Regions from separate parts of the Homo sapiens genome. Here regions 1, 2, 3 and 4 are each linked to region 5. Evidence: fine-mapped expression QTL. A gene starts in region 5. Each other region holds a variant in brackets. All regions are shown on one strand. Distances are from middle to middle. Region 1 overlaps WDSUB1 (WD repeat, sterile alpha motif and U-box domain containing 1). Region 2 overlaps TANC1 (tetratricopeptide repeat, ankyrin repeat and coiled-coil containing 1). Region 3 overlaps BAZ2B (bromodomain adjacent to zinc finger domain 2B). Region 4 overlaps WDSUB1 (WD repeat, sterile alpha motif and U-box domain containing 1). Region 5 holds the start of WDSUB1 (WD repeat, sterile alpha motif and U-box domain containing 1).

Region 1 (5,106 bases), 44 kb before region 5:
CTGCAGAAACTGTTACCTGTGACTGCCTTTTGCTCTTTTTGAGATATATTTCACACCATAAAATGCACCCATTTGTGGTTCTTGGTATATTTCAGAGTTGTGTATCACTCCATCAATCCCATACCCATTAGCAGTCACTGCCCCCGCAGCGTGTGGCCACCTCTAACTGACTTTGTCTCTATGGATTTGCCTGTTTTGGGCATTTCATATAATGGGAATCATACACTATGCAGCCTTTGGTATAGGGCTTCTTGCACTTACCATAATTTTTCCAAGGTCCATCCTCTACATATTTGTGCATTTTTATGGCTCGATATTCTCTTGTATGGCTATACGACATTTCATGCATTCACTTGTTGATGGACATCTGGGTTGTTTCCACCTTTGGGCTACTAATAATGCTGCTATGCCTGTACAACTTTTTGTATGATTATGTGTTTTCAATTCTCCTGCCTATAGACTTAGGAGTGGAATTGTAATAACTTTCTGAAGAGCTTCCAGACTGTTTTCAACAGCAACCACACATGAAGGTTCCATTTTCTGCACATCCTTGCCAACACGTATTTTCCTACTTTTTGATTCTAGCCATCTTAACAGGTATGACATGGTTTTGATTGGCATTAATGACACTGACCGTCTTTTGAAGTGCTTATTGCCAAACAGCATATCATTAGACTGTTCCAGGGCACCATTACCTATATTAACTTCTTTAATCTGCACAACAACCTTATGATGTAAGATATTGTTAGCATTCCTATTTTATAAATGAGGAAACTGAGGTATGGCCTGAATAACTTTCCAGGGTCACACAGGTAGGGAGCAACTGACCTGGGATTTAAACCCAAGCAGTGTGGCTCCACAGACAATGCTCTTACTCTCCCTGTACACGGGACTTCCAGAAAGGACAACTATAGTAACTGAAATTTTAAAAAAATCTCATTGGACAGGTAAACAGCAGTTAGACAACTGCAGGAAAGACAACTGGTAGGCAGGTCCAAGAAAAACACCTAGAAAGGCTTAAGAGAGAAGCTGCAGGGGATGAGAATGGCTGAAACATTTCCAGAACTAGTGAAAGGCATGAAAGAGAAAAGTCTACGATGACAAATAGGAATTAGACAGTATACTTGAACTGCAACTGAAAAGCATACCTGAAGTCAGAGTATAACCAAGTATAACCCAACACGGTGAAGGCTCTAGAGAAAAAGCAGAGTGGGCAGATCAGGTTTAGGAGGTTTTTATATGTTCAGAATAGACCTGAAAGAAATAATCTAGCTGGAACACCTACCAGTGCAGGGCAGGCATTTCTACTCTTTAGCCCCAGTTAACATTTAGTTTTTAGGTTTTCTGTAATTCTAACCAAAATACCACTTTGTGTTGTAACATAAGATGATTCTAAAATTTATCTTGGCTGGGCACATCACTTGAGGTCAGGAGTTCAAGACCAGCCTGGCCAACGTGGCAAAACCCTGTCTCTACTAAAAATACAAAAATTAGCCAGACATGGTGGCACGTGCCCATAATCCTAGCTACTAGGGAGGCTGAGGCAGGAGAATCGCTTAAACCCAGGAGGTAGAGGTCTCAGTGAACTGAGATCATGTCACTGCATTCCAGCCTGGGTGACACAGTGAGACTCTGTCTCAAAACAAAAATTATCTTGACAGCTAAATTGGCAAAAATGACCAAGCCAAATTTTTTTAAAGATTGGACATAACTAAAAAGGTACAGCAGTGCCTATCAGTATTAGGAATGTATACAAATGTACCTGTAAATACATGACTGGGGATGTTTTCTTTTTTCTTTTTTTTTTTGAGATGGAGTCTCACATTGTCGCCGGGGCTAGAGTGCAGTGGCATGATCTCGGCTCACTGCAACCTCTGCCTTCCGGGTTCAAGCAATTCTCCTGCCTCAGCCTCCCAAGTAGCTGGATGTTTTCTATAGAGTCACTTGTGGTAAGCTGGCAAAAAAATGGAGAAAGATGCCTATAAACAGAGTAAGAGTTAATTTCGGTAACATCCATACCAGGAAATGCTATCCTGCAGATAAGAATGAAGCATGTACTTCCAAATACACTGACAAATGGTGTTCTCTCTGATACACTGTTTGATACACTGTTGATAAACAAAAGCAACTTTTATTTATTTATTTAGAGATGGAGTCTCGCTCTGTCGCCCAGGCTGGAGTGCAGTGGCACGATCTCGGCTCACTGCAAGCTCTGCCTCCTGGGTTCATGCCATTCTCCTGCCTCAGCCTCCCAAGCAGCTGGGACTACAGGCACACGCCACCACACCCAGCTAATTTTTTTTTAAATATATTTTTAGTAGAGACGGGGTTTTACCGTGTTAGCCAGGATGGTCTCGCTCTCCTGACCTCATGATCTGCCCACCTCGGCCTCCCAAAGTGCTGGGATTACAGGCGTGAGCCACCACACCCGGCCAAA[A/G]GCAACTTTTTAAAAATATGCATCAGGCTGGGTGAGGTGGCTCACACCTGTAATCCCAGCATTTTGGGAGGCGGGCAGATCACCTGAGGTTGGGAGATCGAGACCATCCTGGCTAACAAGGTGAAACCCCATCTCTACTAAAAATACAAAAAATTAGCTGGGTGTGGTGGCACATGCCTGTAATCCCAGCTACTCTGAGGCAGGAGAATCGCTTGAACTGAGGAGGCAGAGGTTGCAGTGAGCCAAGATTGTGCCATTGCACTCCAGTCTGGGCAACAAGAGCGAAACTCCCTCTCAAAAATAAATAAAGTATGCATCATAACTCATTTGTTATAAGACACTATAAATGGATGGAAAAATAACTAGAAGGATACACCTAAACCGTATCATTGCTACATGAGAATACAGAAGAGCCCCCATTTTTAAAATCGCTTGTCTGTTTTTCACTAAGCCCGTATTACTTTCATAATTTAAAAGTATGAATAAAAATGAGGTACAAGAATGCTGAAATACAAACAGGTCCTGAAAATTTTTCTGAGGCAATTAGTCCAATAGATATAAAAATATACATAAGGAAAAACTGAAAAAAGATGTATTCTGAATATTCAGAAAAATGTAGGTGGGAAAAGGAAAGTAGAAGAGAAATTAGAATTATATGCTGGCAGGAATTTCTCCACACATGTATCAATCATCAATAGAAAGAAATTGGTTCAATTCTGCTATTAATGATTAGGATTGGGTTTTTTAAAAAAATTCAACTGTATGTTTCCCATAGGAACACCTATAAAACAAAGTAACACAGGAAGGTTAAAAATAAATGAGTGGTAAGTCTACAGGGATTACGCTAAGAAAAAAAAGCCACTTGAAAGCTGTTTTACTACATGATTCCACTGATATACCATTTTTGAAATGGTGGACAAATTAGTGGTTTCCAGGGGCTGGGGTCGGAAGACAGTAGGGAGATCATGGGTCCAGTTATAATTTGGAAGTGCTCTGTCTCAACTGTAGTAAGGTAATCACAAACCTCTAGACAGGATAAGACTGTGTAGAGCTTCACACACACAGATAAGTACAAGTAAAACTGGGGAAATCTAAGATCTGTGGGTTCTAGCAATGTCAATATCCTGGTTGTGATATAATAGTATCATTTTGAAAAATGTTACCAGTGGGGAAAGCTGGGAAGTGCACAAGGTATATGTCTCTATTGTTTCTTATAACAGCATCAATTAAAAATAATAAAATTTAAAAATAAATGTGTGGTACCAGAAAGGTTAAAATCAAAGACATAGACAATAGGAAAAAGTAAGGCTGTGAAGCAATTAGAATTCCTATACACTGCTGGTGGGCATAGAAAGTGATTTAACCACTCTGGAATGCTATTTATGTATACCTTCTCCTAGGAATATAGCCAACAGAAATGCATACATATGTTAACCAAAAAAACATGTACAGAAAGGTTCATAGCAGCACTATATATAACAGCCAACAATGCCCATCAACAGAATGAATTATATGCACACAATGGACTTCTATACAGAAATGAAAATTAAACTGCTTTGTGCAACAATATAAATGAATCTCACAAACATGTTTAAGAAGCCAGACCCAAGAGAGAGACACGTTATGATCCAATAGCAAACTAATAAAGCAATCTATCCTATTATAGTCTAAAGGAGGAAAAAAAATATGTCAATAGCCTAAAAATTCTCAGCAAACTGGAGATAGAAGGGAACTAACTTGATAAGGGGAGCTAATTATCATACTTAATGGTGAAAGTTGAATGCTTTCCCTCTAAGTGCAGGTGAAGGTAACAATGTCTACACACCACTTCTTTTCAACATTGTACTGGAAATTCTGACCCAAAATAACATGAAAAGAAAAAAAGGATTCATACAAATTGGAAAGAAAGAAATTACTTACATGACACACTCATGTATGAAGAAAGTCTATTAAGCTTCTATTAAAAAGCTACTAACAGCCCTACATATCTAAGGGGTCTGCATCCACTGATTCAACTAACTGCTGATAAAAAAAAAAAAAAAGCCAATACAGTATAACAGCTATTTACAAAGCACTTACATTGTATTGGGCATAAGTAAGCTAGAGATGATTTGAAAGGGGACAGGATGTGTGGTGTGTAGAGAGCATCCACAGACTTTTGTGTTGAGGGAGTTGGTTACTGAAGGATGACTTTACTACTCAATGTAGCAAGGTCACAAAGTCAATATATAACATTGTATTTCTATTTGCTCAAATTGTACAGTTATAAAAATATGAGCTACTGGCCAGGCTCAGTGGCTCACACGTCTTATCTCAGCACTTTGGGAGGACAAGGCAGGAGGATGGCTTGAAGCCAGAAGTTCAGGACCAGCCTGGGCAACAGAGAGACCCCATCTCTACAAAAATAAAAATTTTTACAAGTTAGCCGGGCATGGTAGTAGGTGTTTGTGGTTCCAGCTACTTGGCAGGCTGAGGCAGAAGGATTGCTTGAGCCCAGGAGGTCGAAACTGCAGTGAGTTAAGATTGTGCCACTGCATGCCAACCTGGGCAACAGAATGAGACCTCATCTCTAAAAAGTAAAAATTTAAACATTTTTTTAAAATAAGCTACCTAAAGATAATTTTGACAAAATGTGCAAAACCTGTAACAGAAAAGAAGACCTAAGCAAA
Region 2 (5,106 bases), 73 kb before region 5:
ATTTTTAGTAGAGGCAGGGTTTCACCATGTTGGCCAGGCTGGTCTTGAACTCCTGACCTCAGGTGACTTGCCCGCCACAGCCTCCCAAAGTGCTGGGATTACAGGCATGAGCCACTGCACCTGGCCAGTCAGGTTGTTCTTAAAATGAACGTCTGCCATTACAAACCTACTTGCCTTCTCAAGACAGGACAGTGTTGCTGAGGTATGTGCTTTCATGGGAATCTAATTCACAAATGCCATCTTGTTAAGGATTTTACAACTAGAAGAAATTGTGTCCAATTTGAGTCCTAAAAAGTGCCATCTGTTCACGTTGATTTTTGAGCTCCCATTTCATACCAAGTCTTTTTTTCTCCATCTTTGTATTTCATTGGCCAGAAGGCAAGGTACTGCCCATAGCAAGGCATTCTCTTCTCCTGCCCTCCCCTGCCCTCTTTTCCTTCGGGTCAGGTGGGGTGCATTAACCCTCACTGGAGCCTGGTGGGCAGCACCAGAGGTCGGCCTTTGCAGCAGAATAGCTGGAATTCCTGAGCATAATTTAGCCATGGTTCTGTTTGCTTAAGCATGTGGGTGGCTATTCTTCAGTCTCTCTTGTGTTCGTAAGTCCCTGTGGCTGCTAAAACTTGAGATCCCCTGAAAATGGCAGAGCCTCAGGAGTTCGCCGTGATGGCCCCAGAATACTCAATCTGCTTAGAAAAAGGAAAACACAGATCTTGTTGTCTGTCTGCATCATTTGTAAACGAGAGCCTTGTCAGGAATTTGTGTGTAGAACGTGATCTGTTTTAAGCCTGAGCATAGTCTGCCTGTGCTTACAGGTTTTTAGTTGCCTCAAGAGGGAGTCACCAAATACATAGCAAGGGTTGTGAAGGAAAAGGAGGACAGGGTCCAACCCAGTTGCCATGCCCGGGGTGGCGCACTCGCCCCTTGTCAGTTGCTCCAACTTGTGGTTTCTCTGATGCCCCTGTGAAACAGAGGTCCCTATTTTTAGTGCTGGACTGTCATTTCTGATGTGCTGCTGTTGCAAAAATTCAGTAGCAGCTTTAACAGAAATCCTGATTTAAAGGCCCCGTTTATAATGTAGATGAAGCTTGTTTACCAAATAAAAGAGCAGAATGCTGTGGTGGATTGGCTGCTTCAGATCTCATCAAATGGAAGAGTCCTGTGTTTATTCCTTTGCATGGCATCATGCAAAGGCCCTGCCTCTGCGTGGAGCCCATGCGTCTTTGTTTTGATTCATTCCTTCTTCTGGTCAACCAGGGAGAGGAGGAAGAGGGAGTTGTTCCTTGCCTAGAGGAAAATGGCAGAGCAGCAGCAGATCCAGGTAGTGGTTCAATACCCAGATCTTCTAGCGTAAGAATCATGCGTGTTCAGGGTCACGATCAAATCAATCCAGAAAATGTATATTGTAGGAGAGGAAGAAATCACTTCATCCCTACCCTTCACAGTTCTTGGGACAGACTGCAGCAACGAAAGACAGATTAACACAAACAGAAGTTGAATAGTAGGTATATCTTGTGTTGTATCCATGGGAGATACCCAGAGAAATGAGTCAGTGTCCAAGAGGTGGCTTAGATTTTAGGCTTAAAAACCATCATCCCGGCTGGGCATGGTGGTTCACGCCTGTAATCCCAGCACTTTGGAAGGCCAAGGCAGGCAGATCCACGAGGTCAAGAGTTGGAGACCATCCTGGCCAACATGGTGAAACCCTGTCTCTACTAAAAATACAAAAATTAGCCAGGCGTGGTGGCACATGCTGTAATCCTAGCTACCCAGGAGGCTGAGGCAGGAAAATGGCGTGAACCCAAGAGGCGGAGGTTGCAGTGAGCCGAGATTGTGCTACTGCACTCCAGCCTGGGTGACAGGGCGAGACACCGTCTCAAAAAAAAAAAAAAAAAAAAAATTTCCCTGAAACAAAGATAAATGGTTTGGGGAAGGCCAGTTATGGGGAGGTACCCAAGAAAAGCAGTTAACAAAGGTAAGGTTTGAGAGCCAGATTCTCCACTGATAGAAATCTCTAGTGATGTAGTCATCCTTCTCTTCTTGGTAATAGAAAGGAAGACACCCATGAATTTTGTCTTACAAGAGGATAACTTATCTGTTTTTGGGATATCTCCTGTGTCTGCAGTCTCTCAAAATAATCAACTCAAAATCTTTATGCGAAAAGGCATATTTTGGGGTGGCATATTCTGGTCTCTCACAATATAAAAGTACCCCAAGCCTTATGTTAGTAGGAATCATTAACGTTATCATCGTGGCAGGAAGAGACTACAGCGAGAATTCCTGGGACAGCAGGGACCAGAACTGGTTTGTGTAGATTCTCAGAGTATAGATAGGATCACATTGGACCCTGGTTTCCAAACATTTTAGGTATGGGAACCCCCCCACCTCTGTCTCAGTGCCTCGGTATGTAAAACTGACATAAATACCATTCTGCTAATGGTATTTATGTCAGTTTTACATACCGACACGCTGAGATGAACTTTAAATGTCTGCTCAGTAAGGGCAATGGGCCTGTTTGCATAACACAAATATGAATGGTACCTGCAGTCCAGATCAGCTGTAGCATCCCTGCCCTTCAGTATTTTGTTCTGGTTGCACTGTCTTGAAAGAATCCACTTCGTCATCCAGATCAGTGATGCAGATGGCAATATTTGTTAAGAACGGCTCTTCCTGTAGTTCTAAGAAATTATCTGACTAGAAAGATGACAGGAAAAGCACTATTATGAGACTGCCCAGTGATAAGTTATTCTGGGCACCCATGGTAATGCGCTGGGCCCCAAGGTATTAGAATTTAGTAACAG[C/T]GGCCGGGCACAGTGGCTCGCACCTGTAATCCCAGCACTTTGGGAGGCTAAGGTGGGCAGATCACCTGAGGTCAGGAGTTCGAGACCAGCCTGGCCAACATGGTGAAACCCCATCTCTACTAAAAATATAAAAATCAGCCGGGCTTGGGGGCTCGTGCCTGTAATCCCAGCTACTTGGGAGGCTGAGGCAGGAGAATCCCTGAACCTGGGAGGTGGAGGTTACAGTGAGCCAAGATTGCACCACTGCACTCCAGCCTGGGCAACAGAGCAAGATCCTGTCTCAAAAAAAAAAAAAAAAAGGGGGAATTTAGTAACAGCAAATGTTGTGGTGGTTGGGTGGGGGGTGGGTATTGTGTTTGTTACAAATTTTTAAATAAGCTGCATTTAAAAAATGAAATTTGGACTAAGCATTTGCGGAAACTTTGGCCTCTTCATAACTCTGGTCAGGCTCAACTCTTTAGCTTTCTGCAGGGGAAAACTGAAGCTCACAGACCTTGAGGATTTGCCAAGGTCATACATAGCAACTGGGACTAGATCATATCTTCAGGTGTCTTGTCTTGTGTTACATCCTGGACCTTGGGACTCCAGAGCTGAGCAGTCTCTCACCTGCTGAGAACCATGGTGCACAGGCCCCCTGTGCCCTCCACTAGGGTGACTCACTGAACACACATGTTGGTACCAGCACTGACTTCTCATGAGGACCTTGGCTCGGCTTACCAGCTACCTCCTTGGAGAGCTGCAAGGGACTATGTCCCAGTGCATGTGAAGGACTGTTCTACCACAGAGAACTGAAGTTGTTACGCCTCTTGGAAAAATATTGTAGCATCAGGTGTCAGAGCATCTTGACAGCTGGCAGATGCCTGCTCCCTCTGGTGCTCAGATAAGGCCTGGGGAGCTGGGAATCAGCTCCTGACTTGTTACCTCCTCTGGTCCACCACCGCTTTAGTGCTGTCTGCTGCAAACATAGATTAAGAGGCTTGAGGACATCCAACAGGACAGAGCCCTTTAAATGCATTTTTCTGGAGAAATGTGGTGGCCTCCTTTCTGAAAAGAAACAGGCCATCATCTGGGTGGTGAGGAATAGGGCGTGGAACATTCGGAATCAGCCAGGCCTACAGACTGGCCCTGAGCTCCCTGGGCTGCCATGTAAACTCTTATGAGGGGCTGGTCTGTGATGAGGCCACTGAAGAAGTTCCCCTCACTGCTGAGGTCCACACTGACTGAGGACCAGAAGCGAAGTGAGAGCTGCCTTACCGTTCTGGAAGGATGGAGAAGGGGATGCTTTCCCCATGGTCATCCTGGACCTAACCCTTACATTCTTAGGTCCACAAGACCAGGACTGCCTGCTGCCCACGCTTACTCCCTCACTTTCCGGTGACGAGGCCCCAGATAGAACGCAGAGCTCAGGTGATCCACGGGAGAGATGTGGCTACCTCTCTGTGACATGTGAAGAGGTGAGGTTGCCAGCCACACTGCACCATGGCCCTAAGGACAGTCGGTAGAGACTGTTCAGTAGGAGAGCTAGTTTCTTGCAGGGAGATAACAGGTTTGCCGCCTTTTGTTTATGTGGCTCCTGGAGGTTAAACCATGGCCATGCTGACTGGTGTGACCAGAGGAGGTCACAAATCAGCAACAGACTCCCAGCTTCCCTGGGCATTATTGTAGGCACCAGAGGAAGCAGGCATCTGTTAGCTGCTCTGAGGGGTGTCAAAGAAGACAGGCAGACCAAGGGGTGTGTGCAGACACCAGCATCACTGAGCCCTTGGCTCCCGGGGCTTAGCTCTGAGACCCGAGCTCAGAAGGTGCGCAGGAGACAAACCAGGTCCCGCCCTTGCTAATCGGAAGCCCACAGATGACCCTCTCCCGAGATGGCTGTCGTGGCACTCTGCTTTTGAACTATGTATGAACAAAATCCTCTGTGTGTTTTCTTTTGGGTTTGGTTTCTTTCAATCCTTGTTAAGTTTGTGAGACTGACTTGGTCAGTCGTGTTTAGCCACATGGTGTTTATTCTTGTAGACATGTAGTGTTCTGCTGATTGACTATGCCACTTTCTTGAAGCTTGCTAATGATGATGATGATGGTTGTTTGGATTGTTTGCAGCCCGGGGTGCGGTGAGCATTTTTGCTTGTGTTTCTGGTACACCTTGAGAGTGCCTGCAGGGTGCATCTCTGCAAGTGGGTTGCTGGGTGGGGAGATACACCTGTCTTCAACTTACTCGTAGCGTCAGCCTGTTTTCCAGAGCAGCCACCATGCACCTTTCTGCTAGCAGGGTGCAAGCTTTCCTGTTGTTCCGCATCCATCTCTCGTT
Region 3 (5,106 bases), 76 kb after region 5:
CCCTTTGAATACTGGCACAAGACAAGGATGCCCTTTCTTACCAATCCTATTCAACATAGTATTGGAAGTTCTGGCCGGGGCAATCAGGTAAAAGAATGAAATAAAGGTCATTCAAATAGGAAGAGAGGAAGTCAAATTGTCTCTGTTTGCAGATGACATGATTGTATATTTAGAAAATCCCATCGTCTCAGCCCAAAATCTCCTTAAGCTGGTAAGTTATTTCAGCAGTCTCAGGATACAAAATCAATGTGCAAAAATCACAAGCATTCCTATCCACCAATAATAGACAAACAGAGAGCCAAATCATGAGTGAACTCCCATTCACAATTGCTACAAAGAAAATAAAATACCTAGGAATCCAACTTACAAGGGATGTGAAGGACCTCTTCAAGGAGAACTATAAACCACTGCTCAAGGAAATAAGAGAGGACACAAACAAATGAAAAACATTCCATGCTCATGGATAGAAGAATCAATATTGTGAAAATGGCCATATTGCCCAAAGTAATTTATAGATTCAATGCTGTCCCCATCAAGCTACCACTTTCTTCACAGAATTAGAAAAAAACTACTTTAAATTTCATATGGAACCAAAAAAAGGTCCCATATAGCCAAGACAACCCTAAGCAGAAAGAACAAAGCTGGAGGCATCACACTACCTGACTTCAAACTATGCTACAAGGCTACAGTAACTAAAACAGTATGGTACTGGTACCAAAACAGATATATAGAACAGTGGAACAGAACAGAGGCCTCAGAAATAATGCCACACATCTACAACCATGTGATCTTTGACAAACCTGAGAAAAACAAGCAATGGGGAAAGGATTCCCTGTTTAATAAATGGTGTTGGGAAAACTGGCTAGTCATATGCAGAAAACTGAAACTGGACCCCTTCCTTACACCTTATACGAAAATTAACTCAAGATGGATTGAAGACTTAAACGTCAGACCTAAAACCATAAAAACCCTAGAACAAAACCTAGGCAATACCATTCAGGACATAGGCATGGGCAAGGACTTGGTAACTAAAACACTAAAAGCAATGGCAACAAAAGCCAAAATTGACAAATGGGATCTAATTAAACTAAAGAACTTCTGCACAGCAAAAGAAACTATCATCAGAGTGAACAGGCAGCTTACAGAATGGGAGAAGATTTTTGCAATCTAGCCATCTGACAAAGCGCTAGTATCCAGAATCTACAAAGAACTTAAACAAATTTACAAGAAAATATAAACAACCCCATCAAAAAGTGGGTGAAGGATATGAATAGACACTTCTCAAAAGAAGACATTGATGCAGCCAACAAACATATGAAAAAAAGCTCATCATCATGGGTCATTAGAGAAATGCAAATCAAAACCACAATGAGATACCATCTCATGCCAGTTAGAATGGCAATCATTAAAAAGTCAGGAAACAACAGATGCTGGCGAGGCTGTGGAGAAATAGGAACGCTTTTACACTGTTGGTGGTAGTGTACATTAGTTCAACCATTGTGGAAGACAGTGTGGTGATTCCTCAAGGATCTACAACCAGAAATACAATTTGACCCAGCAATCAATCCCATTACTGGGTATATATCCAAAGGATTATATATCATTCTACTATAAAGACACATGCACATGTATGTTTATTGCAGCACTGTTCACAATAGCAAAGACTTGGAACCAACTCAAATGCCCATAAATGATAGACTAGATAAAGAAAATGTGGCACATATACACCATGGAATACTATGCAGCCATAAAAAAGGATGAGTTCATGTCCTTTGCAGGGACATGGATGAAGCTGGAAACCATCATTCTTAGCAAACTAACACAGGAACAGAAAACCAAACACCACAAGTTCTCACTCATAAGTGGGCGTTGAACGATGAGAACACATGGACATAGGGAGGGGAACAACACACACTGGGGCCTGTCGGGGGGGTGAGGGTCTGGGGGAGGGATAGCATTAGGAGAAATACCTAATGTAGATGACGGGTTGATGGGTGCAGCAAACCACCATGGCAAGTGAATACCTATGTAACAAACCTGTATGTTCTACACTTGTATCTCAGAACTTAAAGTACAATGAAACAAAAGAAAACAAAACAAAAAACAAACAAATTAAAAAAAAACAGTGAACTGGACTGGAAAAAAAAATCCTTGGTTTTGGCTGGAAGGCCATAGGGGCTTTCTTCTTTCCCACTTCCCTGAGAGGCAGCAGCAGGTCAGAAGGCCTTCAGCTGAGGTCAACACTGTTCTCAGCGTCCTCCCTATGTAGACTTTGACCCTTGATATGCATATGTCCTAGCACTGTTTCTAAACCCAAAGGTCCCTTGATAATGTTTATCATTACTCAGAAATTAAGTGCTTTCTACTCTTTCTCACACTAATGCATACAGGGCAAGGTGTGGGGTACAGTGTTTCGTCTCTTGGAGTGCTCTTGCTGCATGTCCAAGTCCTGTGGAATCATTATGGAGGCTGGGAATCCTGTGTACGGTTACTTCTTTGCTTGTAGGTTACTCTCACTAACAAACTTTGCTGCTATTAGCACCATGTGTGTTAGTGGTTTGTGTAACCATCTTGTACTACAGTTGGTGCCCAACAAAGTCCCGATGTCATGGCTTTCTGAAAGAGGAGAACCCATGGGTCAAAGAATTTCTCCTGGGGACAGTGGTAATTCACTTGGCAGTTAGGATGGTCTCAGTAGCTACGCCTGAGAATGGCAGAAGCCCTCAAGTGGTAAAGAGGGTTTCCAGTGGCTTGAAATTAAGTTCTATCTCTTCTCCTTATCAGCTTAGAGATTTTCAGGAGTACAAATTGGTAGGGTGCACTAGAAAGGGTGTGGTAGTCTCTCTAGAAGGGAAGGTGGGGCAAATTCCCACTGTTTATCTGTAATATGAGGCAACTGGTCCTGCTGTATGTGAAGCCAGTTACTGTGAGGCACGGTGTACAGGAGCCTGAGTGAGAACACCAGCAGGAGGAGATCCAGCATTATACAGAGCAAGAGCAAGACTCTTATTAG[C/G]TCCACTACTGTAGGGATAGTAGAGGCTTGGCCTGCTAATTTGCATGGTTAGGAGACAACAGTGTTGTTAAGGGAAGCTGAGTAAAAGGAAACACATGACCTGGTTAAACAATGAGCAGTCTGGGTTGACTAATAACACTGGGGCTGATGTTGTAACCCTGCTTCTAAACTGGATGCTTGGTAGCATGGGTAATACGTATTACCATTGGGGTGATTTTCCTGCCACTTGAATGTGAAATGGACTAGATCCACAGATAGTGTAGTTACTCTAACACACTCTGAGACAACTGGCTGTGTTAGCGTAATTATAAGAAAATCCAGGGTTTGAGTAGAGAATCCCTGACAACATGCTCTTGGTGCAGAGAATGTTGGATGACCGAATCAGAGCAGGTCCTCCTAAGTGGACAACTGCTTTGACTTATTCCTTCATCTGGGAGGCAATGTTGGACATGAAATAGTTCTTTTTAGGTCATACAAGCCCCACAGCAGAGGCGGAAATGGAAAGAGACAGGGTCTCATGAGATGCACAGGTTTCTGCCCAAAATATAAAGAAAGAAGGAACAAAAGAAGGAGTAGACCGATAGGCTGAACTCAGGCAATCTCCCTCACACCAATAAATGTGATATTGCTCATAAACAGAAGGAATGATAAGACAGAAATTGAGAGACGGCCTAATTCTTGAGTGTGGGAATGTAGTCCTATTCAAAAAGTTAAAAGACCCACTGAGACTGTGGAAAAGGGACATGTGAGATGAAACATGATACTGAATAGTTTACAGACTTGAATAATTATTGGGAGAGGTGGAGTCACCAGAAGATTAGGTGAAGAAGGTCCCTGGGGAGGACGAGGGCTATTGAGCTTCATCCACACAAACTGATAAGATCTAAAGGACATAGAGACAGGGAGATACTCTGCATTATCTTGACTCTGGAAGTGGCATTGCTGGTGGGAATGCTCCTAGTCATCAGCTCCACTTTGTGAGTTTGAGTCAACTCTAGAAGCCAAGCTTCTTTGTTCCTAATCTGAGCCCTTTCAAACTCAAGGAGAAATACAGGTGGGCTCAGTCCCCTTTACTCTCTTCCAAGGGATCCCTAACCATGTACCCCAGATGATTATGCTGGAAAAGAGAAGAGCCTCCAATATTTACGGGTTTGCTAGAAATGGAGGACCAAGTATCATAGCTCCAGACTGCAGAAGAGCTCTGGTAAACAAGTTCCTCAACTGGGGTTTGGAGTCCATGTTACCTATGGCTGAAAGATTAGAATTACAATCACTGCAACGGCTTTTGGACCTTTTGCGTGAATTCTAGTTGTTTCTTTATCAGGGTGGGGTAATTAAGTCCACATGTCAGTTGGACTTTTTTTCTTTTCGAGACAGGGTCTTGCTCTGTCCCCAAGGCTGAAGTGCTGTGATGCGATCGTGGCTCACTGCAGCCTCGAACTCCTGTGCTTAATTGATTCTGCCACCTTAAACTCCTAAGTAGCTGGAAGTATACCTGGCTAATTTTTCTGTAGAGATGGGGTTCCACCATGTTACCCAGGCTGGTCTTGAACTCCTGGGCTCAACTAATCCTCCCACCTCAGCTTCCCAAAGTGCTGGGATTACAGGTATAAGCCACCATGCCTAGCCCTTAGTTAGACATTTTTTGTGACTTCTGTTAGTAGCTTCTATAACTGTTGGCCAGGTATGTTGCCAAAACCCACCTGTACTTACAAGGTCGGCAGATGTTGTGTGACACTATACTTACAAGGTCGGCAGACGTTGTGTGACAGTGTTGCACACCTAGAGGTGAAACAGGTTGCATTTCTTATACAAGAACAGACTCAGGCAGGGGTACTGCACAACACCATTTCACAATTTAACAACCCCGTTTGCCTAACTCTGTTTGACACTAGTACTGCAAGTGATCTATGACTGGTCTCAGGCAGAGACTCTGATGGCATGTGTTAGTTTTTGGGTGTTTGATCTCCTCTAGCTAATGAATGGTATACACCTTTGGGGTTACTGTGTCTCCTGCATTTGCAGATAACATACATATTATCAAGACTTAGGTATATTATTATATATTGGGGTTTCTAGATATGATACAATTA
Region 4 (5,092 bases), 27 kb before region 5:
CTCAGGTGATCCTTCCCACCTCAGCATCCCAAGTAGCTGGGGCCACAAGTGCACACCCCCATGTGTGGCTAATTTTTGTCTTTTTTGTAGAGATGGGGTTTCACCATGTTGCCCAAGCTAATCTCAGACTCCTGGGCTCACGCAATCCATCCACCTCGGCCTCCCAAAGTGCTGGGATTATAAGTGTGAGCCACCATGCCAGGCCAAACTATTTTTAAATGACATTAAATTTGGATGTATACTTTATATTGATAAAAGCAATGTGAATAACCTGTCAAATGATTTACTAACTTTTTTTTTTTTTTTTGAGATGGAGTTTCACTCTTGTCGCCCAGGCTGGAGTGCAATGGCACGATCTCAGGTCACTGTAACCTCCGCCTCCCAGGTTCAAGCGATTCTCCTGCCTCAGCCTCCCGAGTAGCGGGGATTATAAGCATGCACCATCATGCTGAGCTACTTTTTTGTATTTTTAGTAGAGACAGGGTTTCACCATGTTGGCCAGGCTGGTCTCGAACTTCTGACCTCAAGTGATACACCCACCTTGGCCTCCCAAAGTGCTGGGATTACAGGTGTGAGCCGCGGTGCCCAGCCCGATTTACTAACTTTCTGACCCTAATGGTGAGTGGGGTTGAAATGAGTGAAAAATGATGTCCTTACTAACCTTGGCAAAGTGTTTCCAGGTCAAATTGCCAGATGTTCACTGTTTTGTCCATTGAACCAGTAGCAAGTAAAAGGGTATTAGGTGCAAAAGCACAAGTTGTGACATACCTAGTTAATAAAAACAACTATTATGTATCTTCTGACTAATTTTTAAATTATATTAATACAAGGTGAGGTTAAGTTCAGACCTGGTGTGCTGAGTCAATGTGTGAAGTATATTCTCAGTATTCTGAAAAACAATAAAAACAGCTTTAAATTTACTCAAGTAAGAGTAAAGTTACTGATGAAGACTCATTTGACATAAATGGGTTGTATACTAAGTGGATATATTAATATTTATTAGTAACTAACATAAGTTGAAACTTTACTCAATGAATAGCAGAAACAGCATCTGTAACAGCATTCTCAGGTACTTACTTCACTTTTTGTCAATTATCGGCATTATTGTCTGCTAGCCACCTCCTTAGAAATTTTTAGTACAGTAGACCCTTGGCATTTGCTCATCTGTTTGAACCTACTAATAGTAACCTAAACATCTATTACCTGAAATAATTCATATTTTTGACTATGGCATTTGACTTGTATACATTGCAGGACCAGTGAGTAGAAATTAGTCCCTTGGCCGGGTGCAGTGGCTCACACCTATAATCCCAGCATGTCGGGAGGCCGAGGCAGGTGGATCACTTGAGCTCAGGAGTTTGAGACCAGCCTGGCCAACACGGTGAAACCCCATCCCTATTAAAAATATAAAATATTAGCTGGCATGGTGGCACGTGCCTGTAGTCCCAGCTACTTGGGAGGCTAAGGCAGGAGAATTGCTTGAACCCGGGAGGCAGAGGTTGCAGTGAGCCAAGATCGCACCACTGCACTACGGCCTGGGCAAAGGAGCAAGAGTCTGTCTCAAAAAAACAAATAAATAAATTAGTCCCTTAGAGTACACTAAGGTGTCCATCTAACATTTTAGGTGTATTTAAGTGGGACTCATACATATTTTACAGAGACAATTTAGTGTTATAATTGTTTTTGAGAATGTAAAATCTCATGAAACGTTCATGAGAAATATTAAAGATTTACCTCACCTAGCTTGAGTATTCTTTCCCATTTCCTGCCAGAACACTCAGTGACTCGAACTTCTGTGTGGAAGACTAGCTTACATCACTTGCTTAACTCGCTACCCTTTGATTACTTATATCTCCATTTATTTGCTGGCATAGCTACAGCATTAGGAGGCTCCACTCAACATTTTCTTCTTTTGGACAATATTTTTTTCAACTACTTTATTTTTGAGACAGGGTCTCACTCTGTTGCCCAGGCTGGAGTGCAGTGGCACAATCTCGGCTCACTGCAACCTCCACCTCCGGGGTTCAAGCCATCCTCTTGCCTCAGACTCCCAAGTAGCTGGGACTACAGGGAC[G/A]CGCCACCACGGTCAGCTAAGTTTTTGTATTTTTGGTAGAGATGAGGTTTCACCATGTTGGCCAGGCTGGTCTTAAACTCCTGGACTCAAGCCATCTGCCTGCTTCAGCCTTCTGACATGCTGGGATTACAGGTGTGAGCCACTGCACCCGGCCACAACTTGGTCTTTACCCACACATGGATCAGTAAAAAACTCCCATTTTCCAAGTCCATGATAACCTATCCTTTCTTATGCCTCTCCCTAAATCCAGCCAGGACTCTAAGAATGGTAGGTCACTTTCAACCATATTCACCAAAAACCCTAGGGTAAACATTCATCCTTTGCTATTATGGAAGCCTGGTGTAAAAGTTTAATAATTGATTGTATGTGATGTTTTGAACACTGGTGCTCTTTAAATATGTATAGTTTATGATCACATTTAAAATCTATCCATCTTAAAATCATTACTGAAATATTTAAGGGCTTGTTGCAGAACCAATATCTTACTTGCGTAACTATTTTAGCATTTGTGAAAATATTTATGTTCTTAGTCATACTAAACAGAAAAAATATATACTTTTTCTACCAGGCCTAACTTGAAGTTCAGTAGTCTAATAAACATAACTTTCATAGATCACCACAAGATTTTTAAATACTTACAGTATCATATACTATGACAGACTTATCCACTGACCTTAAAAGAAAATAAATTATAGGTGAAAAGTTCTATAAAAACAAAGTACAGCATTTATGTAATTAGTATTTTTAAGTAATTTTAGTAACTTTTCTAGAAAAGACAGATATTAACATACATTTAGAATGCAATCCTTTTGTTCATATGCATGAAAACTTTAATTCAAAAAACTACACGTGGCCAGGCGCAGCGGCTCACGCCTGTAATCCCAGCACTTTGGGAGGTTGATTCGAGCGGATCATGAGGTCAGGAGTTTGAGACCAGCCTGGCCAACATGGTGAAACCCATGTCTACTAAAAATACAGAAAAAAATTATCCGGGCATGGTGGCGTGCACCTGTAATCCCATCTCCTTGGTAAGCTGAGGCAAGAGGATGGCCTGAACCTGGGAGGTGGAGGTTACAATGAGCCAAGATCATGCCACTGTACTCCAGCCTGGGTGGCAAAGTGAGACTCTATCTCAAAAAAAACAACATGCCATATATAAAATTTAGAAAATTATAAGCTTTATTAAAACAATAGTATATACTATTTACGCTACATGACCATGAACAGAACAAGCATCTCTGATATATAAATAAAACACGACTCTATAACAAGTTAGTAACTGAATGGGAAAAACCACAAGGAAAAGCTATTATTTGCTACTTGGTTTTGTTTCAGATAGCACTATTCTTTACCATTGATAAGGCGTGCCTTAAATGCTAATCAATGTATATATGTTTTGATTATGATCCATTTTTGAAAATTATAATTCTAAACTTGATGTTGACTACATGATTCCTTGTAATGGTATAAAAATTAAAAGCAGACATCTGGGGTTATGCTAGCAAAGAAAAAGAACATCACACACACAAAAATACAACATTATAACAAAATGAGTAATTTAAAACAATGGATAAATATGCCTCTATCTGGCATTTCTACCCCCCTTGGAAACAGGCTTTTATGCCAGAACAATATACACTACAAGGTGAAAAAACATCTGCAATACAAGTGGTACCACACTCTGCAGAACATTAATATTTGTACTTATTAAGGGAGCTGATCACAGTCTGACCACAGGATTCACACCTATTAGCTTAAAATTCCTTGTTCAGTAGACCCTCCAATGTTGATGATGGATACTGACTACAGAATCTTTGTCATAAGTTCAAAATAGAAATTATACTTTAAAAGTTCAAAGATATAAAATAAAACACAAGAACTTGGGAAGCATATACTGTCAGCCCTCCATATCCACAGGTTTCCTATCTGTGAATTCAACCATGAATCAAAATATTCAAGAAAAACATAATAAATTGAAATAGGAAAAAAATAACAAAAAATAATACAAATAAAAATACTGCAAAACTATTTACATAGCCCTTACATTGTATTAGGTATTATAAGTAATCTAGAGATGATTTAAAGTATATGGATAATGTGTGTAGGTTACATGCAAATATCACACCATTTTATATAAGGGACTTGAGCATCCACAGGTTTTGGTATCCAAGGTAGCAGTCCTGGACCCAATCCCCTGCAGATACCAACGGATAACTGTAATGCATTCCAGATGCAAAAAGAATTATAGCTTTCAATGTTAAACTGCATCCAAAATACAGTGAGAAATAGTATTGACAGCTAACACTACGTGAGTATGTATGTGATGGACATAATTTACAGACACTTTTATTTAATCCTAAGTTCTTCAAGGTACAAGTTCTTATTTGTGAAATATCTGAAATTCTTAGGCCAAATTCTGCTATTTTGAGCATCCTTAAAACACACACACAACTAAAGAGTGATGTCAGCAAGATGGCAGAGTATAACTTCCCATGCTTGTCCCCTCACAGGGACATCAATTTGAAAAAGTATCCACACACACACAAAAATACTTTCATAACAGCTAAGAAAACCAGGTCTCCAGCTATAGCTACATGGCTGGGGGTCAGGAGCATGTTAAATATTACTTTTCAAGATTATATGATGAGATGAAAGGAAAACTGGTCAACTGAAACTCATATATATATATATATATATATATATATATATATATATATATATATATATTTTTTTTTTTTTTTTTTTTTTTTTTTTTTTTTAAATAAATGAACTGGTCATTGGGTGAACTGGCTTTTGGTTAATTGACCTAGAGCCCAGTTCTGCTTAAGCCTGACTTTTCTAAAGGGATAATTAGCCAAAATTTCATCTGGAGCTGGCTAGAGCCCAGCCATGCTAAGCTTACAAAGAAAATGGTTCTCTCATCTGGCCCCCATTACACTGTCTCAAATAAAATCCTCATTGGTACCACAAATCAAAAACAAAACCCCAAAATTAAAAAGAAATCCCACTTTCCTAGAC
Region 5 (5,106 bases):
CAGTGGCATGTTCTCAGGTCACTGCAACTCCCGCCTCGCGGGTTCAAGTGATTCTCCCACCTCAGCCTCCCAAGTAGCTGGGATTACAGGCATGTCCCACCACGCCCGGCTAATTTTTTGTATTTTTAGTAGAGACCGGGTTTCCCCATGTTGGCCAGGTCTTGAACTCCTGGCCTCAAGTGATCCGCCCACCTCAGCCTCCCAAAGTGCTGGGATAACCAGCGTGAGCCACCGTACCCGGCCAAGGGAGCTCTGTTTTAAAGGACAACCTGTTACCTGGGATAAGAACAATTTGGAGAAAAAAAAATCTATAAGACTATAACCTCTGATTCTCACAACCACCGTTGTCATACCAATAAATTTCCACAACTCCTCAAAAAGAACCTTCAAACTGTCAAATAACTTCAAACTGATTTGATGTTGAGCTTTCAAAACCTAAGGTGTTTATTTCACCTTTGAAGCCTTTCTCATAAGGAGTTCTCAAAAATACCTCACTCCAGATCTGCTCATCTCAACTCAAAAAGTATTTTCTATTCTAATAAACTATCTTAGCTGTTCCCTTCACAGGATGGAGCCAAGGCTATCTGCTCCGCCTTTAAAATCAAACTGTAGGATTTGCTCTTAAAAAAAAACAACAAAAGTCTCATTGAAAATTTATTAATAAGTGACCATGTTGAAAGCTGTCCTATCATGGTTTGTCATCCTGTCTGATAAATAGTAAAATTATACAAAAGACTTGAGGTGAGGAACCACCTCTGAATGAATCAAGGAAACCAAGAAAAGAAAACCTAAGAAAGTGTCAAAAAATGAACTTAGCCAGACCACGCTCAAGAACAAATTTACAAATTTAGAATAAAATCAAACTCATCATGGCAAACAAAATCCTATACAGTCTTATGTAATCAAAATCCTATATAATTCCCGCCTGCCCACTTCTCAGATCTCAACTCTGGCCACTGTCCCTCTCTTCTTTCCAGCCTCCTTGGCCTAACAGTCTTCCGTCTCCATAAAGCGGTTTTCTCAAGCTGAAATGTTCTTGCCTCTGCTCTTGGGATCCTATTTGTCATTTAGATCTCAATTTCAGTGTCTCTCCTCAGAGACGGTTTCCCTATTTAAAGTAGCCACTCCCTAGGCTAGCACATCACTCTATATTCTCAGCAATTACCACCAGCATCGGATATTTGTTAAATTGTCTCCTCCGACTAGGATGTAAATCCCAAAGGAGTAGGTACTTTGCCATCTTGCTCATTTCTGTATCCACACCATGTAAAACTGTCAGGCACCTAATGTACTTAAATAAATATAAGTTGAATATTTATTTTGTTCGAGCCCAACTGAGTTCCAGCCTTTAAATAATCCATATGTAATATGAAATTAGAAAATCTACCAAGACTAAATATATATACACACACAGAAACATAACTGACGGTGGAAAACTGGTGTCAAGTGAGGCAGAATCAGCTCTGAAAGGGGCAGGTATAACCTTGACTTGTAAAATTGATAATCCTTTGTCCTAGTCTTATTTACGGAAACACCTCTACCAAAGAAAAAAAAAGTCTGGGCGCGATGGTGCACACCTGTAGTCCCAGCATTTTGGGAGGCCGAGATGGGTGGAACACTTGAGCCCAAGAGTTTAAGACCAGTCTGGGCAACAAGGCAAGACCCCATCTCTCTAAAAATAAAAATAATTAGCTGGGTGTGGTGGCGAGCACCTGTAGTCCCAGCTACTCGAGAAGCTGAGGCGGGAGCATCACTTGAGCCCCGGAGGTGACGCCGGCGGTGAGCTGTGATTGCACCACTGCACTCTAGCCTGGGCAACAGAGCAGGACCCCATCAATCAATCAAACAAATATTAAGGCATAAGGAGCATGCCTTTCCCTATCTTCATCTTATCCTTTTAGGATAAGTTCAGCTTCTTTTCTTCGAACATAAACTCCAATAAAGCCTAAAAACCAAACACGAAAATTTCTGGTAGACTATCCCTGTACTGCTGTCTTGAAAACAATCAAGACCAGGTGGTGCTTTCTGGAGAGCTCGCAAATCCCAGCTGTGCAAGTGCGCACAGGTGATTTTCCAAACAAACTCCGGCTCCCAGCCCTCTGCCGCACTCAGCTCCCTTTGCAAGTTCCAGGGCATTCAGTGGGAAGTACCGAGGCCACCGTCAGCTGAACAGTTTGTTTTGAAAAAGCTCTCAGGCCTACCCAGGACCTGCCTTGGGGTAGGGGGGGCGGTGTGGGCGTTCCCTCGGGCCTCGGCTGTCACGCGAACAGTAAATTCCCGGGCACACCAGGTCAGTTGGCCAGCGTAAACACATGAATCCCATCTCATTCAAAGCAAACCCGAAAGGTGTCCAGCGCTCCCAAAATAAAGTCCGCCACTTACACCCCCCATGCACGAAAGACCAGGAATGTGCCCCCCTCTATGAGCGGCCGGGCCTCTGTGGACTGAGCGACCCCAGGCAAGAGGGAGGCCTGGGAGGCAGGGAGCTCACCCGCAAGGGGCTTCCTTCCACCCGACGCCGACACGCCCGCCCTAGCCCCGGGCCAAGGGTGCACGAACCACGCCTCGCCGCACTCAAGGTCCCGGTTGGGCCCTGCTGCGCGGTTAGAACCGGGAAATGGAGGGCTCAGACGCCCCGCGCGAGCAGGCCCAGCCGCGCTTCCCCACCTGCCGCCACCGCCGCTGAGCCGGCCCGTGGGCGCGGCCGCTCTCACCTGCAGGAGCGGGGGCGCGCGGGATCCGCCTTCAAGGTGCCCACGGGCGGTGCGGGTCACGTGCCGCGCAGGTGAGGCTGGCGGGGCGGGCGCCGGCGGAGACCCAGAGCAGAGGGAACAGGCCCCGCCCCCGAACGCCCGCGGGGACCCAGAGCGGAGGGAACAGGCCCCGCCCCCCGAACGCCCGCTGTGACCCAGAGCGGAGGGAGTAGGCCCCGCCCCGCGAAAGCCTGTGGAGACCCAGGGCGGAGGGAACAGGCCCCGCCCCCGGGACCGGCCCCTGAGGCGGCGCATGCGCGCTCTTCCGCCCGGACTGCGAGTTCCTCCCCAGCTTCTGGCTCCTAGGGTCAAGGCGATTTCAGGCTTGGAAAGGGACTTCCGTCGCAAATCTTTCTGTTTTTGCTAAAGCTGCGGTCGCAAGGCCTAGTGATCGCCTGAAACGTCGTTTTAAAGGGGCGTTGCATGGAATGTTCGGCCATCCCTGCTGAAAGTTTTTACCTCTTTCTCCAGTTCTCCACCCTGCACTGTGTACTCCGAGGCCGGTCTCCCAGATTGGCCTTCTCTATTTCGGCCACCCTGGGCGGTCCGTGACTTGGCGTCTTCTGCCCTCGCCTCCTCATTCGGGTTCCCCTAGGGGTCTCTCCCGGGCAGGCTGCCTGCCCCGGGCCCCAGCCCTGCCGTTGGGTGGGTATCCTGAGCTCACTGGAACCCCGGGCGCCTTTTCTTCAGCCTTTCCCAGTGCGTCCCACTGGCTCACGGTAGACTGGTTTCCACGTGTCATTGACTACAAAGTGGCCCTGCCAGTGCTTTTTGAGATAAAAATTATCCAGAAAAAAAAAAGTTCCTGAGCAAATTACCACTTGTTAACTAAATGCACAACATAGTGTGGGACTATGTTCAGATGAAAATCAAAGATACAGAGAGCTTTTATTTTTAATCCATGAGGAAACATTAAAAATATATCAGCCTGTGGAGACCGAAGTTACATTTGAAGAGTAATGACCTAAAATGCTCACATTTAAAGATGAAATTGAGACCGTGGGAAACTATTTGCAATGAAAAAGATTAAGGGGAAAGGGAAGATTAAAAATTAGGATTTTGTGAAGTTCTTGTTAATTTTTTAAAATTAGCGGAGTGCATCATGATTGAGACTTTGAACACCAAATTCCATTCCAAAGTATTGCCAAAACAGTATTTTTCTAAAAACAAGTTTTTGATTGTATAAATAATAGAGCTCTCTGTAGGAAACACAGAATATATAACAGGAAAATAAATAGTCAATAATTACACCCCTCAGAGATCACCCACTCAGAGATAACATTTTCTCTCAGTCTTTCAGAAAAACTAATTTTACAAAAAGTCCTGGAAACTGCCTTTTTAAACAAACTTGTGTCATGAGCTGTTCCCATGTCTAAAATTTCATTAGCTTTTTTTTCTACATAATGGTCTACATATAAACATACCATAAATTATTTAACATTTTCCCTGTTGCTGGATGGTTTCAACAATTTTGATCTTAGTGTAGATAATGCTGGATTAAATATCTTTGTACCTAAATCTTTTTCTTTTAGCCTCAATATATTACCACGTTATGTACATAAATCTTTTTCCATATTTATGAATATGTACTTAGGATAAAAATTGAAATGGAGGCCAGGTGCGGTGGCTCACGCCTGTAATCCCAGCACTTTGGGAGGCCAAGCTGGGTGGATCACCTGAGGTCAGGAGTTCAAGACCAGCCTGGCCAACGTGGTGAAACCCCATCTCTACTAAAAATAGAAAAAAATTAGCCAGGCATGGTGGCACGCACCTGTAATCCCAGCTACTCAGGAGGCTGAGACAGGAGAATCTCTTGAACCCAGGAGGCTGAGGTTGCAGTGGGCAGAGATCTCCCCATTCCACTTCCAGTCTGGGGGATAGAGTGAGACTTTGTCTCACAAAAGAAAAAAAAGGAAATGGAATCACTGGGCATAAAGGTGTAGACAGTTTTAATAAGTATTACCATACTGCTCTTCAGAGAGGTTGTACAGTTTACACTCTCAGCAATATGTAGTTGTGTTTGTCTCTCCACTTTCTTGTCAAACTTGAGGGATACCTTTTTTATCTACACTAATTTGTGTGTGGGTTTTTTTGTTTGTTTGTGAGATGGAGTCTTGCTCTGTCGCCCAGGCTGGAATGCAGTGGCAGGATCTTGGCTCATTGCAACCTCTACCTCCCAGGTTCAAGTGATTCTCGTGCCTCAGACTCCCAAGTAGCTGGGATTACAGGCGCCCGCCACCGCGCCCGGCTGACTTTATGTATTTTTAGTAGAAACAGGGTTTCACCATGTTGGCCAGGCTGGTCTCGAACTCCTGACCTCAAGTTATCCACCCGCCTCAGCCTCTATCTACAC

The links. PIP is the estimated chance that this variant, and not a neighbour inherited with it, causes the effect. A credible set is the group of variants that fine-mapping cannot tell apart.
Region 1: its variant is the best candidate, but not a certain one, in a credible set for the expression of WDSUB1 in subcutaneous fat (GTEx, PIP 0.79).
Region 2: its variant is the best candidate, but not a certain one, in a credible set for the expression of WDSUB1 in sun-exposed skin (GTEx, PIP 0.81).
Region 3: its variant is the best candidate, but not a certain one, in a credible set for the expression of WDSUB1 in whole blood (INTERVAL, PIP 0.65).
Region 4: its variant is the best candidate, but not a certain one, in a credible set for the expression of WDSUB1 in whole blood (TOPMed, PIP 0.50).

The regions. Positions count from the first base shown.
Region 1 is chr2:159,239,923-159,245,028 of GRCh38, forward strand. All of the region lies in intron 10 of WDSUB1 (WD repeat, sterile alpha motif and U-box domain containing 1), which reads right to left. LOC105373716 (a long non-coding RNA gene) reads left to right here. Exons shown (of 2, transcript XR_002959431.1): 2 at 1-1,142. Among named protein-coding and RNA genes, the nearest start is that of WDSUB1, 44 kb to the right of the region's middle. The variant A/G (reference allele first, on the strand shown) is at 2,438.
Region 2 is chr2:159,211,045-159,216,150 of GRCh38, forward strand. All of the region lies in intron 19 of TANC1 (tetratricopeptide repeat, ankyrin repeat and coiled-coil containing 1), which reads left to right. Among named protein-coding and RNA genes, the nearest start is that of MIR6888, 27 kb to the left of the region's middle. RefSeq lists an enhancer at 303-917. The variant C/T (reference allele first, on the strand shown) is at 2,799.
Region 3 is chr2:159,360,028-159,365,133 of GRCh38, forward strand. All of the region lies in intron 27 of BAZ2B (bromodomain adjacent to zinc finger domain 2B), which reads right to left. Among named protein-coding and RNA genes, the nearest start is that of WDSUB1, 76 kb to the left of the region's middle. The variant C/G (reference allele first, on the strand shown) is at 3,014.
Region 4 is chr2:159,257,097-159,262,188 of GRCh38, forward strand. It overlaps WDSUB1 (WD repeat, sterile alpha motif and U-box domain containing 1), which reads right to left. Exons shown (of 11, transcript NM_001128212.3): 6 at 2,714-2,747; 7 at 849-889; 8 at 662-768. Among named protein-coding and RNA genes, the nearest start is that of WDSUB1, 27 kb to the right of the region's middle. RefSeq lists a silencer at 2-170. The variant G/A (reference allele first, on the strand shown) is at 2,075.
Region 5 is chr2:159,283,869-159,288,974 of GRCh38, forward strand. WDSUB1 (WD repeat, sterile alpha motif and U-box domain containing 1) reads right to left here and starts at 2,835. Exons shown (of 11, transcript NM_001128212.3): 1 at 2,715-2,835. RefSeq lists silencers at 2,669-3,108, 2,795-2,964.